Linked DNA regions of Homo sapiens. The protein of the gene in region 1 purifies or fractionates together with the protein of each later gene. This does not show direct contact. Each region holds a gene or a part of one and is shown in the gene's direction. Other genes may lie near its edges. The genes, in order: SLC25A4 and GALNT2.

The links.
Region 2: the proteins of SLC25A4 (region 1) and GALNT2 fractionate together in Homo sapiens (co-fractionation; 2 studies listed by BioGRID). This does not show direct contact.

What each region holds. Positions count from the first base shown.
Region 1 is NC_000004.12:185,137,776-185,147,549, forward strand, and holds the start of SLC25A4 (ADP/ATP translocase 1), read left to right. Parts: upstream 1-5,490; 5' UTR 5,491-5,597; coding exon 5,598-5,708; intron 5,709-6,988; coding exon 6,989-7,475; intron 7,476-7,983; coding exon 7,984-8,124; intron 8,125-9,038; coding exon 9,039-9,196; 3' UTR 9,197-9,774. UniProt on the Homo sapiens protein: ADP:ATP antiporter that mediates import of ADP into the mitochondrial matrix for ATP synthesis, and export of ATP out to fuel the cell.
Region 2 is NC_000001.11:230,258,123-230,267,273, forward strand, and holds part of GALNT2 (polypeptide N-acetylgalactosaminyltransferase 2 precursor), read left to right. Parts: intron 1-534; exon of another isoform or gene 535-965; intron 966-1,355; exon of another isoform or gene 1,356-1,459; coding exon of another isoform or gene 1,460-1,641; intron 1,642-4,450; coding exon 4,451-4,543; intron 4,544-4,799; coding exon 4,800-4,883; intron 4,884-7,118; coding exon 7,119-7,245; intron 7,246-9,151. Other genes in the region: uncharacterized protein LOC124904542, read right to left, coding at 1,460-1,641. UniProt on the Homo sapiens protein: Catalyzes the initial reaction in O-linked oligosaccharide biosynthesis, the transfer of an N-acetyl-D-galactosamine residue to a serine or threonine residue on the protein receptor.

The sequences.
Region 1 (9,774 bases):
CTCCCTGGGCTGCGCAGAATACAGGCCCCTCCTTCCCAGGGATCCACACGAGCCTCACATTCTTTGCTTTCTCTCTAACTTTCTTCCTTTCTCTCCAGGTTTGGGAAAACTTCATATAATCTTTGTAAGAGTAGCTGAGCAGGAAGTTTTTTGTTTTTATGGAGATGGAGTTTTCGCTCTTGTTGCCCAGGCTGGAGTGCAGTGGCGTGATCTCCGCTCACCACAGCCTCCGCCTCCCGGGTTCAAGTGATTCTCCTGCCTCAGCCTCCCGAGTAGCTGGGATTACAGGCATGCGCCACCACGCCCGGCTAATTTTGTATTTTTAGTAGAGACGGGGTTGCTCCATGTTGGTCAGGCTGGTCTCGAACTCCTGACCTCAGGTGATCCGCCCGCCTCGGCCTCCCAAAATGCTGGGATTACAGGCGTGAGCCACCGTGCCCGGCTGTGTGCAGAAAGCTTTTTGTTTTCCCTCAAGTATTCTACGAAGTCCACTGGGCTTGAGTTTTTTCTCTTCCTTTGGAAATTCTAATGCCGAGAATAGACTCTTACTTCCTCTGCTTCCTGAATGTTTTCTTTTTCCTGTGGCAGTGACACAGAACGTCTAGCTGACTATGAGGAAAGGGTCATGAGGTAAAAGAACGCATATGGAAGAAAACCCTTATTCATTAAAATAGCAAAATATTGTTCTTCAGTAGTACAGATGATAAAAAATAGTCTCTGATAACATTTGTTGCCTACTGATTTTAATAATAGAAATAAAGCATGTTTTTAAAAATGATTGATAGGATATGTGAAACACAAAACACTAGTTCAAAATGTGTTTAGAAAATGGACCCAGTCAGCTCCAGGTGAGTAACGGTTTTATTCACAGAGGTTGCCCGTGGGCAAAACTGGAAGATGCCAGCCTGGAAGGTGTGTGGTTATGGTCGGAAGGCATTATTATGCAAGCATAAACATTAGCTTCGTTGTGTTGTATGATACTCAATGTGCTTGTTGGACTCTTCAACAAAGTAAAGAGAGGTGCTAAGATTGGAAGTGGGAAAAGAAAGGTTCTGAATCTGTCTGGGAAGTGCACGGGGTCCGCCTGTGTCTATCAGGGGTGTGCTACGGGGGTCCCCCAGGCCTCCCTGCCTCCAGCAACCAAGAGGCCAACCTGAATCAGTTTCCCCCGGAAGCAGAGTGCCTTCTAGGAGAAGTCCCTCTGTCTTTTCTATGATTCAAGGGCTCCTCTGCCCCCTCAAATCACCTCCTTTAAATAATAAGGCGCCAAATCCTTCTAACAAAACTTTTTGTTTCACGAACATTCATAAAACGTAAAAAGTACAAGTTCCGGTGGAGGCAACACACTGAAAGTCACTCTGCTGGAAGTACAACCAGAACCCCCTCTTGGGTCCTTGTCCTTGCCAGGCTGCGTTGGAATTGCCTGTAGGCACCACAGCTATGTCTGTTCCTGGCATGTAAGCTTCTCCACATAGCCTGGGCAACATAGCAAAACCAGGAGACCACAGCAAAACCTGCAAATTAAAAAATATATATATCCGGGCATGATGGTATGTGCCTGTAGCCTCAGCTACTCAGGAGGCTGAAGCAGGAGGATCCCTTGTGCCTAGGAGTGCATGGTTTCAGTGATCTGTGATTGTGCCACCGTGCTCCAGCCAGGGTGACAAAGCAAGATGCTGTCTCTAAAATAAATAAATAAATAAATGCACATATAAATATCTTGATCCTCTTCGCTTAATGCTGAAACTTACCATGTGAACAAACACTAGTAGTGTGTTCTAATTCCTAATACTTTAAATGTACACTTGCACACAGGCATTATGTTATCACCACCATTAGCACATCCTTTATTGTTTTTCTTTATTCCTTGTCACTCTTACTCTTTAGCAACTTCCATTCTCTATTCCCAGTTTGGTAAGAGACTAAGTCTATAAGAGCTTCCACTAAAATTCCAAAAGGCTAACTTTCCACCCTGCTCTCATTTCTACATGGCCCTGTTCCCACCAGCATCTAAGATCCCATCCACGATTGAAAGTAGAGTTTCTTCTCATCTCCTAGATGCCTTGTCCATTCTCCTGCTGGAAGAAAGCCACTAAGTACTGGGTTGGGCGGGTGGACACATGTTCTGCCGAGCGCCATTCTCTCCCCTGCCTGTGTAAGTGATACCAGGATCTTGTGACCACAGGCAGCTCATGCTCCCGAGGGCATGTAAGGCCTCTCTTTTCTGAGAAAGTCCGTGGAAGCAGAGGACAGTGTATGAGTTTCCATGGAAAACCTCTTGTCAAGGATTCCAGCTATGACTCCTTCTATAGAACAGGATAACTGGAGAGTAGCCAAGGAGAAATATATCTCCCATTTAGAAAATATCCAAAACTCTGATTGGTAAAATTAAGTGTAACAAAGATGATACTACTTCCTGAATTCATATATTAATTAATATTTAATTTAGTTTAAATGTCTATTTAAAATCTTCTGGTGATGTTTAAACAATTGAACAACTTGATAGTAAAAATAAATCCAGACACATAAGCAGATAAAACTTTATTTTTTAAGTGATTGTAGAATCATATATCAGCCTATTTTTAAAAAATGAAGATCAAATAAATATGTCATAGTGTGGATATTTCATAAATTAAAGCTATTATGAGAACTTAATATATGACAAACTAGACTTAGTAATATAAGACAAATAATGGAGAGAAGAAAATATCTACTTAAGAATTAGTATTGGGATACCCAAGCATGATATGGAGAAAAGTGAAATTAGACCCATACCTCCATACAATATAAAACGTAGTGTTAGACATTTTAAAAATAGCTACTCAAAGTAGAAGAAAAAAACTGATATATGTACTAGAGTAAATAGACTGCTATATCTATAAAAGAGATACATTTACATCAGAACATGAAATAGATCATCATCATACCATAGATCTGTTCATAACACTAATAGAATGATATAATAAATATCAAAAGGAAAACAACAAAATGAAAAACATTCAACACATATTTATTGTCCCAAATATATAAAGAATTGTTGTTAATATAAATACTCTGCTTTCACTCCAGCAGTAGTCAAGGAAGATTAAAAGTTTATACAAAAGGGAAACCTTGTCAAACTGTCAAATTAAATTGAATCATATGGAATATATACAGCTTCATAGTAATTAAGTAAATACAAACTAAAACTCATAAATAACTCACAAATAACCAACTCTCTATTTTTTTAAAGCCAGTGTTGGAGAAGAGTGTGAGAGAAAGCCCATCTATATAACTGGTGGGTTGGTATTTCTGAAGAGCAATTTGTCAATATGTAGCAAAAGCTACAAAACTTTAAAAATCTTAAATCTATCCATTCCATTTGGGAAATATATGAGAAGAAAAAACTTAGAGGAGAAAATGAAGTTTGTGTAAGTTTCAATGTAGCAGTATTAGTTTTCCTTCCTTCCTTCCTTCCTTCCTTCCTTCCTTCCTTTCTTTCTTTCTTTCTTTCTTTTTTTTTTTTTGAGTCAGAGTCTTTCTCTGTTGCCCAGGCTGAAGTGCAGTGGAGTGATCTCAGATCACCATGACCTCTGCCTCTCGGGGGTCTCGTGCCTGAGCCTCCTGAGCTGCTGGGATTCCAGGCATGAGCCATCACGCCAGGCTAATTTTTGTATTTTTAGTAGAGATGGGGTTTTGCCATGTTGGCCAGGCTGGTCTCGAACTCCTGACCTAGGTAATCTGCCAGCCTCAGCCTCCCAAAGGTATGAGCCACCACACCCGGCCTATTTTTCATCATAAAAATAAGACACAATTCTAATGCACAATTAAAAGGAAAATGGAGGTATAAAAGCAAGTGCTCTATATTACAGGATGGGATACAGTACACTATTATAATTAAAAAGGTTTACTGTGTGGATTATGCTGATCCATGGAAATCAGTAAGTGAAGTTTTGATAAAGTGGAGCAAGTGACGAATACACTGAACTGTAAGGTCTTTGGAGATGGGCCACGTCTACTTATATTCAATCCACAGGGCTACACCTAGTTCTTGGTACACAGTACATGCTCAGCAAGAGTCTGTTGAATGAACACATACATGGTTTATCTGTTTGTCTCTTCCGAGTTCTTGACTTCTGTCTGCTCTGACCTCTGGCAGCTTTCCACTAGTTTCTAGCTTTCATTCTGCTTACCTGGATTTCGGAACTCTAGCCTGCCCCACTCTTAGATAAACGCATGCCCTCTGTGGCCCTGGAACCTTAGTGACTTCTGCTATACCAAAGTCTCCACGCCCAGGGTGACACGCAGCTGCAGCTCCGTAAACCTCTAACATGATGTCAGCAAATATTAAAAAAAAAAAGTTTATAAAACAATGAATAAACTTTGTTAAAGGTACAAATGAAAATTAGCAAACATGGGAAGATAATTGAGTGAAGAGTTTAAAGTTAAAAACGAATTGCAGTCATTCTAGGGGAAGGAACAGTTGTATTTGAAAACCTGTATGGTTACATGAACTGCCTAAAAAACAAGCTAAGGAAAATTAAAGCTCAGATTTATATATTTTAAGAAATTAATTGCAATTAATTTCCTGGGATTAAATAGCATTTCCTCAACCCCAGCTGTCATTAAAAAGAGGCAAATACAGCCAAGGACTGGATCTCCGGAAGGCTGACAGCACTGACCCTCAAGAAGGCACCGGCTGACAGACAGAACATTCTGCCCTAATATGTGCTGAAATTCCGCTGAGAGCAGAGTGGTACATTGAACCCTTTAGGGGCTTACAAAAGAAGTGTCCTGTGTTTTAGAGTCACAGAGTTTTGCAGAAACAAGTATGAATTCACCTAGTGGCCCCCTGCACCAGGTCTTTCCTGTGGGCACTGAGTGCCAGACACATCAATATGTAATAGCAGAATGAATGACTGAACGAACGATTGAATGAAAAGAAATGAGAGGCAGCAGGTTGTCAGATTCTATGAGGCAATCACAGCATCAGGTGACCTTAGTATCTATTTGAGAGGACTGCCATTTATTCTCGGGAGCGCACGGCTCTAAAGAGGCCCATATCCAGGCAGTGAGCTCTGGTGGGGGGCGCCTTTAGATGCAAGAAGGAGGAAACAGCTCGAAATCCCTGGGCCTGAGCGCGGCCCGTGCAGGCCGGAGGGTCAAGAACTCTCCACCGGCGGCAGCGGCCCGGTGTCTGCCCCGGCTTCGCCCCGGCCTAAGGCTGCCTGTGCTATAAATACGCGGCCCACATGCCGCGGTGACACGGTGTTCCCTGGGCTCGGCGGGACAGATAACATGAATGTGCCCTTTAAACGTCCCAAGTTGCAGGGACAGCCCCCGGCCCAGCCTCGCTCCCGGAAGCGCCTTCGCCCCCGATGCCCTCTGCAGCTGGGAGGAGGGGGCGCCCCGCACCTGCCCAGCCAATGCGCGGCGCGAGCGCCGGCCGCGACCCGCCTCCTCTCGCGAGAGCCCGGCGGGGATATAAGGGGGAGCTGCGGGCCAGGCGGCGGCCCCCTAGCGTCGCGCAGGGTCGGGGACTGCGCGGCGGTGCCAGGCCGGGCGTGGGCGAGAGCACGAACGGGCTGCCTGCGGGCTGAGAGCGTCGAGCTGTCACCATGGGTGATCACGCTTGGAGCTTCCTAAAGGACTTCCTGGCCGGGGGCGTCGCCGCTGCCGTCTCCAAGACCGCGGTCGCCCCCATCGAGAGGGTCAAACTGCTGCTGCAGGTGAGGACCGCGCGGTGCAAGAGGCGGGCGCGGGCGCGGCGGGCCGGGCGGGGCGCGCGATGCGGCGCGAGCTGCAGGGCGCGGGGCGCCGCGGAAAATCTGCGCCAGGCCACAGGCCCGGGCGCCCGCCCGCCCGCCCGCCCGCCCGCGGGGGAAGAAGGTGCCCTCTGCGTAGAGACAGGTCCAGCGTCAGTCGCAGATTCCTGGTGTCGGGTGGCGCCCGGCGTTCGGGTGTCTATATATGGAAACCCACCCGGAGCCGGTTTACGTGTGCCAGATCCTGCGCCCGTGACAGCACGGGCGTGCACTCAGGCCCGGAGGCACCTAGTGATTGCCAGTATTTTTGGCACCGTCTTATGCGCACGCACCTTTACAATAAAAACATCAAAATAATCATCACCCAAGAATTCCCTTATCGTATCTCATGCACAATGCTGTATGTAGGCTGACGCCTTCATCTTTATGTAACCTCTGTGAGAGAGTTATTCTTCTCCATTTTACAGATGAAGCTGAGGTTTTGAAATATTAAGAAACAATTTTCGGAATAAACTCAGATCATCCTGTCTCCAAATCTTTTCCTCCCCTACCTGGTCGCTGAATGGTTTATCATCCTCTCGTGTTTTCCTCCACCTGCCCAAAAGGTCAGGGCCCCTCAATGAGGAAGAGCCCAATTTGGGAGTCAGAATTACTAACAACAAAACCCCCACAAATTGCTCACAACGGCAGCAAACCCTTAATAATTGATTACTTGGATTATCTGCTTGAAAACTTTGGAGGCCTAATGTTTAGTGGATTTATTCTCCTTCCTCTATTAGAGCATCTAGTAGAGATCCTCATCTCCAGGGTGATCAGAGTGACACTGAGAAATTGTCATTTTTTGGCCATCATGTCTATTAAATCCAAAGCCCTTTGAAGCAGGGAGTGTTACTCATTTCTGTCCCCCAGTAAGCCCCTCATACAGTTCTCAAACCTAGGGAAAGTGAAATAAATAAATGGCTATAGCTTTATATAATTCAATCACCTTTTCAGTTTATTTGGGGCAATACCTTTTCCCTCAAATACCCTAATAATTGAAGCAACATTGGATTATTTTGGCTTGTTATCCAGTAACTAACATGGATAACAGTATCCATTTACACGTCCTCAGTATCCATTTGATTTCCTCATCCTTTTTTTCTTCAAAAAAAAAATCTAGGAAGTGCAAACCTTTTTTTTTCTCCTGTCCTCTTCCCTTCTCTCTACCCTGCCTGTCCTCTGTCACCCACCCTCCCCTCCACCAGGTCCAGCATGCCAGCAAACAGATCAGTGCTGAGAAGCAGTACAAAGGGATCATTGATTGTGTGGTGAGAATCCCTAAGGAGCAGGGCTTCCTCTCCTTCTGGAGGGGTAACCTGGCCAACGTGATCCGTTACTTCCCCACCCAAGCTCTCAACTTCGCCTTCAAGGACAAGTACAAGCAGCTCTTCTTAGGGGGTGTGGATCGGCATAAGCAGTTCTGGCGCTACTTTGCTGGTAACCTGGCGTCCGGTGGGGCCGCTGGGGCCACCTCCCTTTGCTTTGTCTACCCGCTGGACTTTGCTAGGACCAGGTTGGCTGCTGATGTGGGCAAGGGCGCCGCCCAGCGTGAGTTCCATGGTCTGGGCGACTGTATCATCAAGATCTTCAAGTCTGATGGCCTGAGGGGGCTCTACCAGGGTTTCAACGTCTCTGTCCAAGGCATCATTATCTATAGAGCTGCCTACTTCGGAGTCTATGATACTGCCAAGGGTGAGAGAGGGGCATCGGGGAGAAGGAGGGTGGTGTGGAAAGAGGATCCTATGGGATCTATAACTCACAAAGGACCTGATATATATTGATCTTGTTTTTTCTAGTCTCTGGGATAATTGAGGCTTCTGAATGAGGAGGTGATGTGCATAAGTTAATAGCTGAAGCGTTCCTTGTGTCCTCTACTGAAATAAACTCTGGCCTTTAGTTATTCAGAGAGGAGGAGGGGGGAGCCTGTCTCCCTCTAGACACAGCCATAGCAGTTACTGAGTTTAACTTGAAGCCACTTCCAATGCCCTGTATACAAGCTGAGCACTGCCCCTCCGGGGTCCGGAGAGGGCAGCAGCCACCTTTGCTGTCTGCCTGGTCATATGTGAAGCACCTGCACAGGGGCAGGTTCCCCGCAAGGTCAGAGCATGGAGCTGGAGGTGCAGTGGCCTCTCTCCCTCCACCTGCTTTCTGCTGAGAACAGGCACTTCATAGCCGTTCGGCTTCTGGGCTCTGTCCACAGGGATGCTGCCTGACCCCAAGAACGTGCACATTTTTGTGAGCTGGATGATTGCCCAGAGTGTGACGGCAGTCGCAGGGCTGGTGTCCTACCCCTTTGACACTGTTCGTCGTAGAATGATGATGCAGTCCGGCCGGAAAGGGGGTAAGCTTGTGCTCTACTCATCTAAACTTGTTTGGTTTTGCCCGAGGAGAACATTTTACAGGGCTCCTTTCAGTCTTCCTTACTGGAAATTAATTTTCAAAATTATTTGATAAGGACTTAGGGAAGAAAGATGGTATTAATTCCCCCTAACGTTCTCAACTATCCTATTAGGGAAAAGTATTTTCCATTTTATTAGAGATGATAAGAACATGAATAGTAAGACATTTAGATGTGAATTTAACTAGGTATCCAGCATTATAGAGACCCTAGGCCCTCTTCCCTTAGAGCCTGGGTGCAAAAGCTAGGGAAAAGAAGTAGTTAGCTACTTCTTACAAAGAACTCTTGCTTCCCTCCTAGTTACAGGTGTTAGTGGGATGGGGTGTTTAGCTGGGTAGAGATGGCCTGAAGCAATCTGTTGTGCCAGAGAAAGTTTTGGCTTCTATAGGTTGAACCATACGAAATTGCCACTTTAAAAGTCAAAAACAGTCCAATGTTAGCAGTTTCGTATGTTTCAACGAATAGTTACAGCCTTTTATTTAGACTGCATAACCTCGTGCAGGATCATCTGAGGCTCGGCCTCAGTTCGGTCCTCCATAAAAAAAGGTAACCGCGTAGCATAATACTCCTGCTCCACTGCGCCCTTCTTGTTTCGCAGTTGGGCAGTCCATGAATTACTTGGTTAATTGCCCCAGTTCTTCACTGACCTTGAACTAATGGAGTAGGAATGACAGGAGACCCAGCCTGCCAGTGAAGCAAGGAAGGAGATGTCCAGTGGGATGTTGCATGGAGCTGGGACTCCATGCCCAGATGACCCTGATTTTATAAAACTGGTAACAGTGTGTACAGATATGTTTCAGGGGAAAAGTCTCTTTCCTCCAGCGTTACGGAGCCCTCACCAGCATTTGTTTCCACAGCCGATATTATGTACACGGGGACAGTTGACTGCTGGAGGAAGATTGCAAAAGACGAAGGAGCCAAGGCCTTCTTCAAAGGTGCCTGGTCCAATGTGCTGAGAGGCATGGGCGGTGCTTTTGTATTGGTGTTGTATGATGAGATCAAAAAATATGTCTAATGTAATTAAAACACAAGTTCACAGATTTACAGTGAACTTGATCTACAAGTTCACAGATCCATTGTGTGGTTTAATAGACTATTCCTAGGGGAAGTAAAAAGATCTGGGATAAAACCAGACTGAAAGGAATACCTCAGAAGAGATGCTTCATTGAGTGTTCATTAAACCACACATGTATTTTGTATTTATTTTACATTTAAATTCCCACAGCAAATAGAAAATAATTTATCATACTTGTACAATTAACTGAAGAATTGATAATAACTGAATGTGAAACATCAATAAAGACCACTTAATGCACGCTTTCTATTTTATTGAACTCTTATTAACTGTAAAATGCATTTTTAAAAGATCAAAAATGCATATTTTCTAGCATGATTCATGTATCAGTCAGCAGCCAAGCTTCTAAATGCCAGATATTATATTGAGAATGTATTATATGAGAACGTACAATGCTTAAAGTTCCGGTTTTCAAACTTAGGCAGGTCATATTCTATCTATCTTATCCAGCATTACTGTAGGCTAGAAAGTGATAATGGCTTTCATAATCCTGCCTTGTCTTAGGCACTTTCCTGCAG
Region 2 (9,151 bases), on another chromosome or scaffold:
CAGGCTGGTCTCAAACTCCTGACCTCAGGTGATCTGCCCACCTCGGCCTCCCAAAGTGCTGGGATTACAGGCGTGAGCCACCGTGCCCAGCCATTTTTAAACTTTTTGGTTTTTTTTCTTTTTTGAGACGGAGTTTCGATCTCGTTGCCCACACTGGAGTGCAATGGCGTGATCTCAGCTCACCACAACCTCCACCTCCCGGATTCAAGCGACTCCCCTGCCTCAGCCTCCTGAGTAGCAGGGATTACAGGCATGCGCCACCACACCCAGCTGATTTTGTATTTTTAGTAGTACATTTCTCCATGTTGGCCAAACTGGTCTTGAACTCCTGACCTCAAGTGATCCACCCGCCTCAGCCTCCCAAAGTGCTGGGATTATAGACGTGAGCCACCGTGCCTGGCCATTTTTAAACTTCTTAAAAGTACAGATTATACAATACACCTATTATACAGAAGTCAGATTTTTCACATAGGGAATCTGATTTCTGAGAAAACTTTAATAGAAGGCAAAATAACAAGTAATGCTTCTGACCAAATTATCTTCTCTCAAAAACTATGTTTCTTCACAAATGTTGAAACTTCATTTTTGTTCTTTATTAAAACAAAAATGTGATCTTGTACAATAAGCTTTACAAAATCAAACAAAAATATGGATATATGTGCTTTTTCCTGGGGCAGCATGAGATTCTTTATATAGACATATCAGACGCCCCACACCAAAGCCATTGATACCTACCAGCAAACAGTGAGATTTCAGAAAACAGTATGTTAAAGTACTCAAGACATTGCACTCTTTGTTAGAAGAGAAACATTTTCAAATTGTATTTCACAGCCCAGGAGCCTGTATTCTCAAGATTTGGAAAAGAAGCTGATCCAGGGTTTCATTATTTTGGGGCAGCATGGATCTGATTAAAAAGCCCTGCTGTTGACCTTCAGCCAGGTTGCTCTTTACCTCAGTTGACTCATCTGAAAGATAAAGAAGTGGAATTATATCACTGTATTTCTGAGGTCTCTTTCCAGCTGCAGTTTCTCTTAATCTCCTATACAGGTTGAATATCTTTTATCCAAAATGCTTGAGACAAGAAATATTTTGGATTTTTGACTTTTTCAGGATATGGAATATTTATATGTACTACCTAATGAGATATCTTGGGGCTGGGACCTAAGTCAAAGTACAAAATTTGTTTGTTTTATATAGACCTTATACACATAGCCTGAAGTTAATTTAATACAATACTTTTCATAATTTTCTGCATGAAACAAAGTTTGTGTACATTAAACCATCAGAAAGCAAAGGCGTCACTGTGACCGCCCACTGGATTCACCTTGCCCGCTGCCCAGATGGAGCTGACTTACCAAGATGGGAATTGCAATAGAGAAAGAGTTTAGTTCACACAGAGCTGGCTAAGTGGGAGACTGGAATTTTATTACTTAAGTCAATCTCCCCCAAAATTCAGAGGCTAGGGTTTTTCAAGGATAATCTGGAGGGAGCTGGGGACTAGGGAGTGGGTGCTGCTGATTGGATGAGGTGCAATCATAGGGGTGTGGAAAATGGTCCTTGTGCCTGCCGAGTCTGCTTCTGCATGGATGGGTCCACAGGACAAGCTGGAGATCTGGATGGAGTCATCAGAAGTGCAGAAGCCTGAAAAGACATTACAAAAGGCCAATCTTACGTTCTGCAATGGTGATGTTATCTGCAGGAGTAATTGGGGAAGTTGCAAATCTGTGGCTGATTTGTTAGTCCAACAAAGGCAGTCTGGTACCCAGACAAAAAGAGGGTTTGTTTGGGGAAAGGGCTGTTACCATCTTTGTTTTAAAGTTAAACTATAAACTAAGTTTCTCCCAAAGTTAGTTCTGCCTATGCCCAGGAGTGAACAAGGGCAGTTTAGACGTTAGAAGTTAGATGGAGTCAGTCAGGTCAGATGCCTTAAACTGTCAATTTTGTCATTGTTAAATTTTTTGCAAAGGCAGTTTCGTCACTATCTCATGTTGGTGCTCAAAAAGTTTTGGATGTTAGGACATTTTGGATTAGGGATGCCCAACTTGTAATAGATGACATTTAATATTTATTTAATACTTATTTAATACTACCTAAATACTTGCAAATACCTGCAAAAACAAGGAGGGCCTGGACAAAAGTGAGTCTCCCTCGGTGCCACTGTATCTGCAGCACTGAGACTGTTTGGTGTAGATACCAAATAAATACCTGAGTGAACCAATAAATAAATGAATAAAAGGAGCTAGCACTGAGTAGCACATGGAGATCATTCCTTGGGGCTGCCTAGTTATCCTTTTCTATTACAAAGACAGAAAAGAGTTGCTTTGCGTTTAGGAATTTTTAAGTGATTTAGTCACTTAAAAACTTGAGTGATTTGAAAACAGTATGACTGGAGTTGATAAAACCTTTAAATCATTAAGGCTGAAAGGAACCTAGGACATTCTGGAATCAAATCCTTTCATGTCCCTGTTGGGGAAATCCAGGTGCCAGATGTTACAAGTATTTAAGTTAATAACTGGTTAAAAACTGACTAGGCATAGGTTAAGGCATAGGTCACTTAGCAAAACCCCACTAACAATGTTTAGTGGCTCTTCTGAGAAATGATATGTATGATCCAGTATCCCCCAGCACTTTAAGTACTCATTGTTGTATCTGTATATTTTTTAATAGAGAGAAAGTAAAAATTCATCAGTCTCATCACCAAACCAGTTGTGCCATAACACTCTCATAATTTGATGAATTCGTCTGTCAGTATCTATTTCTGTCTCTCTCTCTTGTTTGCTCACTGGCTCTCCTTCTGCCTCTACACACATATCCACTATATGCAATTCTGCAAACTATTTTATTTTCCCACAAGTCCAGGACATCATTTCTGTCAACATGTAAGATGCACACTCATGTTTTTAGTGGTCACAGAATATTTCATTTGATTCCTTCCTCATATTTAGTCATAAAGTTTCTCTTTTTTTTTTTTTTTTTTGCTATTATAAACAAAGCAGAAGTGAGCATATTTTCACATGTATATTTCATTCCTAATTGATTGCTGCCTTGAGATAAATTTCTAGAAGTAGAGCTGCTGGGTCAGAGAATAGGTGCATTCATATGTTCTTATCTGTGTTGAATGGCATTATGGATAATAGTCCATATTCTACTTACTAAAATGAAAAAGTATATATATCACCTTATATGAAAGATATAGGCCCCATACAGAAATTATTTTAATAATGGTATCTCAGATCAGTTGAAAGTTTCGCCATTTTAAGGAATTATTTTAAAAGGCGAGCATTACCTCCTTACTGTATTTATTTTGGAAGAACACAGTGCCTTCCTATGGGGTTCTTAAGGAGGGCTAGCTATAGCCTGAAGTGGGAGTCCACCTTATAGCCGAGACCAGAATATGGGAGCAAAGAGGTTAGCTGTGTGCTTGCTACTTCATGGATGCTTTAAGATAATTCTTGGCAGAATACACTGCTGATACCTATGCAGATGATAGCTTTTAATGCATGTCAGACATTCAAGAGTAGCTTGTCCCAGGGGCTTTATTTATGGCAAATCATGGTTCTCTCTATGAGATTTAAGTACATGGTTTTCTTTCCTTCTAGAAAAGCCGGCTGGGCGCGGTGGCTCACGCCTGTAATCCCAGCACTTTGGGAAGCTGAGGCGAGTGGATCACAAGGTCAAGAGATCGAGACCATCCTGGCTAATGTGGTGAAACCGTCTCTACTAAAATTACACAAAAATTTTAGCTGGGTGTGGTGGTACATGCCTATAGTCCCAGCTGCTCAGGAAGCTCAGGCAGGAGAATCGCTTGAACCCGGGAGGCGGAGGTTTCAGTGAGCCGAGATCTCGCCACTGCACTCCAGCTTGGCAGCAGAGCGAGACTCCATCAAAAAAAAAAAAAGCTAGTGCAAACATGGCAGTCTTTCAGCTTAGCCCCGCAGAAAAGAAAGTGATTTTCCCAGGAACTCTTATCTTATGTAGTCTGAACTTTAATGCAGAGCTGTCTGATAGTGTCGTAGCCGTGACGGAGAAGGCCGTGGGGCCTGGAATCTCCTTGCTGTGCTCTGTGGCCCCGGCCCTCTGTGGACGCGTAATGTGAGAGTTTTTAAAGAGTAACTTTCTTTTGTCCTTCTTTAAGATATAGACCCCAGTCCCTCCTTTAAAATATTGGCTCGTGCTGTAATTTCCACTTTGCCTTTTGCCCTTTGACCATCTGTGTGACAAGAAAGCCATTCCAATGGTTCAGTAAGCACCCGCTGAGGCTGGCTCCCCACAGGTCCAGCTCGAGGTGCTGGTGGGGACAGCCCACCCTCTGCTGTGTGCCGTGATCCCAGCTGGAGCTGCTGCACACCCAGAGGGAGCCGCCTCAGTCACACGCCAGCAGACAGGTGCAAATGGAGTGATGCAGACAGAAAGAAAGGAAATCACACCTCAAGATTTATTTTCTTTCTAGAAACACCCGCCGGGCAGCAGAGGTCTGGATGGATGAATACAAAAATTTCTATTATGCAGCAGTGCCTTCTGCTAGAAACGTTCCTTATGGAAAGTAAGTGGCAGTTCTGCCTTCTCACAATTACTGGGGATTCTTGGGGTGTGGGGGTGGGAGGTAAGGGGCTGCCCCCAGCGTTGAATTCAGCTACCCAGGTGCCAAGGCGGGAAGGGGTTGTGGGCACAGGAGCATGGGCAGTCCACACCACACCACCTGCCCCAACCCTGTTCTCCTCAGCAGATTTTCAAGTTTGATGTAGAAAGCCCATCTATTCTTAAAATTTATAAAGGAATCTTATTTCCCTCTTCTCCAGTATTCAGAGCAGATTGGAGCTTAGGAAGAAACTCAGCTGCAAGCCTTTCAAATGGTACCTTGAAAATGTCTATCCAGAGTTAAGGTAAGTCCCCAGGGATCTGGGGTTTCACTTTGTAAGGGCTTAGAAGCCAGTAAGGCCATAGAAGCAGCAGAGGGGAAATGGAGGTGGGGCTGCAGGCATGAGATTGGGCACCTGGGCCCCAGTGAGAGCCTGTGGTCTCACTCCATGGTGTGGAGCTGAGAATCTGCTCCCAAGTTGGCCTGCTGCTGTCTCTGTCCTGCAGAGCTGCCCTCCCATGCTTCGGAGTCCCAGAGGCAGTCCCCCGGGCCTCACCTTGTTTTTGGCTTGTTCTCCATTGGCAAGGTGATGGGCTGGGTGACCTGAAGGACTGGTGTCTGACAGGCTCTTCGAGTGACCAGGAGCAGTCCCCAGCCTCCGCAAGCATGCAGTGTCTGCAGCCAGCCCTCGATCCCCCCGCCAGGCGCCTTTGCATGCCTCCGATCTGCTGCGCTCACCCTTGCTGCTCCTGTGGGCCAGCAGATAACAGCCCCCACGAGGCTCCCTCCTCCCAGCTAGGTTAATCACATGTGAAACGGAAGTAATAATGCTGCTGCCCCACGTCCCTCCGGAGGATTCATGGCAGAAACACCTTTCTGAGCATTATTTCCACACCCAGCCTCTTGTTTTAAGCGAATACGAGCTCCCCATCTGGAGGGACCTGCTGATAACCTCGTGAGAAGACCTATAGATCCGCTGGGGTGGAGGAGCCATCTGCACTTCATCTTCTTAAAGGGACTGTCAGGCAGGTCGTGCCTTAATGCGGCACATTCCTTATTCTAAATATTCCCAGAGCATTTTACAGCGGCTCACATATCTCCAGCACAGTGCCTGCGAACGCAAGACTTGCCACCATTATCTTTCCGCTAACAGCTCCTTCAGAGCCCTTGTCACGGAGATTTGTTGGACAGTTAGGTAATGCGGCCTCTCTCTGTTGCTCCTGTTCGCTCACTTGGCTCTTTGGAACCGTTTCCTCTGCTTTTCAAGTAACATGCCAGGCGCCAGGTGGCCCATGCCCCCTAGGAGGAGAACAGGAGAGAACACAGCGTCCTTCTCCCTCGGATCCCTGCCGTGCAGGACAGCTTTTGCTGGGGATTGAGAGCACCAGATGGTCACCAGCGATGGTCACCTGCAGCGGCAAGGGTGCACTGGTCACAGTTGCTGGTTGCAGGGCCCTGGTCTTCTTCCTGCCAGCTCTGTCCTCTCGGCCATGTGCACTCAACCCAAAAGAACCCATTCTGCCTCTGTGTCTGGCCCCAGAATATGATGTCTACACCTCCTGCCTGGTGTCCCTATACAACAGATTCTTGACTGTGGGCACTAAGGCGGCTGCTCATCAACTCTCCGTCAGCCAAAGAGGGGCTTCAATTCAGTGGATTTTAACCCAACCATGCCACTCACTTTGCTTTTTCAGTCACAGTTGACTGCCATTTCTCACAGAGGTCACCCATGGTTTGTAGTGACACTGGGCCCCGCACCCACTGAAGACCACATCTGAGGCACTGAGCACCATCCTGGCTGGCAAATCTGCTTCCCCTGTCTGTGGGGGGTGAGGGAGACATCAGCCTCGTGTTTTGTGTCTGTAATATCACCGCCGTTTACTGAGTGCCTCCTACGAGCCAGGCACTGGGCCGTGTGCTTTACACGAAATGTTCTATGTAACACTTGCAGCAGATCTGGGTAGCCCATAGCCTACCAAAGGGCAAATCGAGCTTCAGAGAAAGTGAGTCTTGCCTGAAAGCCAGCACCTGGCAGAGGTGGGCTGAGGTTTGGATCTGGTTCTGAAGCACGTTGTTCTTCCCCGTGGCTGTGGCTTTGTTCACATTAGACCACCTGACAAGTCTGCCCACCTTTCCCGTCTTTACTGGATAAAGGTCAGATCCTAAGTGTATTGGAAAGTTCAAGGCAACAGGATCTGACCACATTGATTTTCTAAATGACTTCCAATAAGACTAACATTGAAGAGTATCAGGAGCTTTTCCTTCCTTTCCAAAAAAAAAAAAAAAAAAAAATGACCTGATATAGAATATAAAGAATACTTCTGCAACATACAGTCTTAAAGTGTTGGAAGTCCAGAGCCTGGGAGAAATGCCGTGTCCCTGACACACACTACCTGTGGTAGGAAGAGGCACGATGCCTAGTCACTGGGTCTTTCTCTCGTTCCTGTCACCTGTCATGAGGCCACTGAGCAAAGGGGCTGGTGGACGGGAGCTGGTGGTCATGTGCAGTGAAGCAGGTGATTCTCACGTTGTTTTTCAGGGTTCCAGACCATCAGGATATAGCTTTTGGGGCCTTGCAGCAGGGAACTAACTGCCTCGACACTTTGGGACACTTTGCTGATGGTGTGGTTGGAGTTTATGAATGTCACAATGCTGGGGGAAACCAGGTATGTGCATGGGGAAGCCAGGTCACCTGCAGGCCCAGAGAGAGCAGGAGTTGGGGGGGTCCTGATGTTAGAAGTCCCAGCTGCCACCTTTCTCCTGGGATGGGTGATGTCTATGAGGAAGCACCTGGCTCCTGCTGGCCACAGCCTCTTTGGCAGCCAGCACCAGGGCCAGATAGAATGTCACACACTTTGGTGCATCAGCTCTGTCATCAGCTTCGGACCAGGCTCTGCTGCAGCGGCAAGGGTGCACTGGTCACAGTTGCTGGTTGCAGGGCCCTGGTCTTCCTGCCAGCTCTGTCCTCTCGGCCATGTGCACTCAACCGCAAAGCACCCATTCTGCCTCTGCGTCTGGCCCCAGAATATGATGTCTACACCTCCTGCCTGGTATGCCTATACAACAGATTCTTAACTGTGGGCACTAAGGCGGCTGCTAGTTATAGCCCCTGCCTGTTAGATAATAGCTTAAGATAGAAGATACTCAGTATTAATTGCTTCCATTGCACACATACACACCTTTTCTGAGAGGCATAAAAATGCACAACCGCCAGGCGCCGTGGCGCACGCCTGTAATCCCAACACTTTGGGAGGCTGTGGTGGGTGGATCACCTAAGGTCAGGAGTTCAAGACCAGCCTGGCCGACATGGTGAAACCCATCTCTGCTAAAAATAAAAAAAAAATTAGCCAAGCGTGGTGGCGGGCACCTGTAATCCCAGCTACCCGAGAGGCTGAGGCAGGAGAATTGCCTGAACCCGGGAGGCAGAGGTTGCTGTGAGCTGAGATCACACCATTGCATTCCAGCCCAGGCTACAAGAGCAAAGCTCTGTCTCAAAAAACAAACAAACAAACAAACAGAAAAACCCACTACCTTCTCTTCTCCCATCATTGCAAAGGAGAGACAAAATGAAGGCTTGATGGGCCCAGCTGAGACTTCGGATTCTAAAAACAGTTTTCCCATGAGATAATAATAGGAATTGGGTGAAATGTGAGCTTCATGCACCAAAGGGTAATCCTGTGTGCTCTTACCCCCTTCCTGAAAACTTGCCTGGCACTGGGAGAGCCTGCAGTTTTAAAAAAGGCAGGTTAACTCCGTGTGTGTATCCTGAATGTATTGATTTCTTAACTTTCTTTAACTGGAAGTATTTTTGAAAGGGGGCATGTGCTTTTGTGTAAAGCTGGGTCCTCCTCCCAAGTGAGTGTCCAGGCAGACTGCAATCCACAAATACCTTGACTCCTTTCTTCACTTGGTGATGTGGTTTTAGCAGTTACTTGCAATGGCCTGGACATCCTAAATTAGAAGAGAGAGAGGAACCTGCCTGCCTGGGGCTTGACTGGGCCAGTCCCCATCCAGCATGGGCATGGGGCAGGTAGCCAGGGCCTGGCCCTGGTTCCCCTAAATCTCCAGCCCTTAAATAGAAGATACTTGGCGTTGATGAGTTAGAAAATGAGAGAGAGCCTCATTTTCTCGTGTGGTTTTGGTAGAGTTGATCCTGGATTCTCCGTATCAGCGTCAACAGTCTCGATGGTTCAGAATAGCTAAATGTGATGCTATGTTTGGGTAAGAGCCAATGGGTCAGGTTTGCCGACAGATATGAGTGTGCTTCCAGTGCCTGTGCACGTGTGTGACACACACACACACACACACACACACACAATAGCACATATGCTCATCACGTTCTCACACAACAGCTCTCTTCTCCTGATTCCCGGGCTCAGTCCCCCTCTCTTCCTTGTGCACATGCACCTAGACTCATGTGCTGCTTCTTTCTTCTTTTTCTGTTACTCAGATGCAGAGCTTGTTTTGCTCTCTGTTTCGTGTACATGACTTCATATCATTGATCTCTGTCCTTTTGATAAATATTGTTGGAGGGTTTTTTACTTGGCAGTACTATTTTGCTAGAGAAAGGGA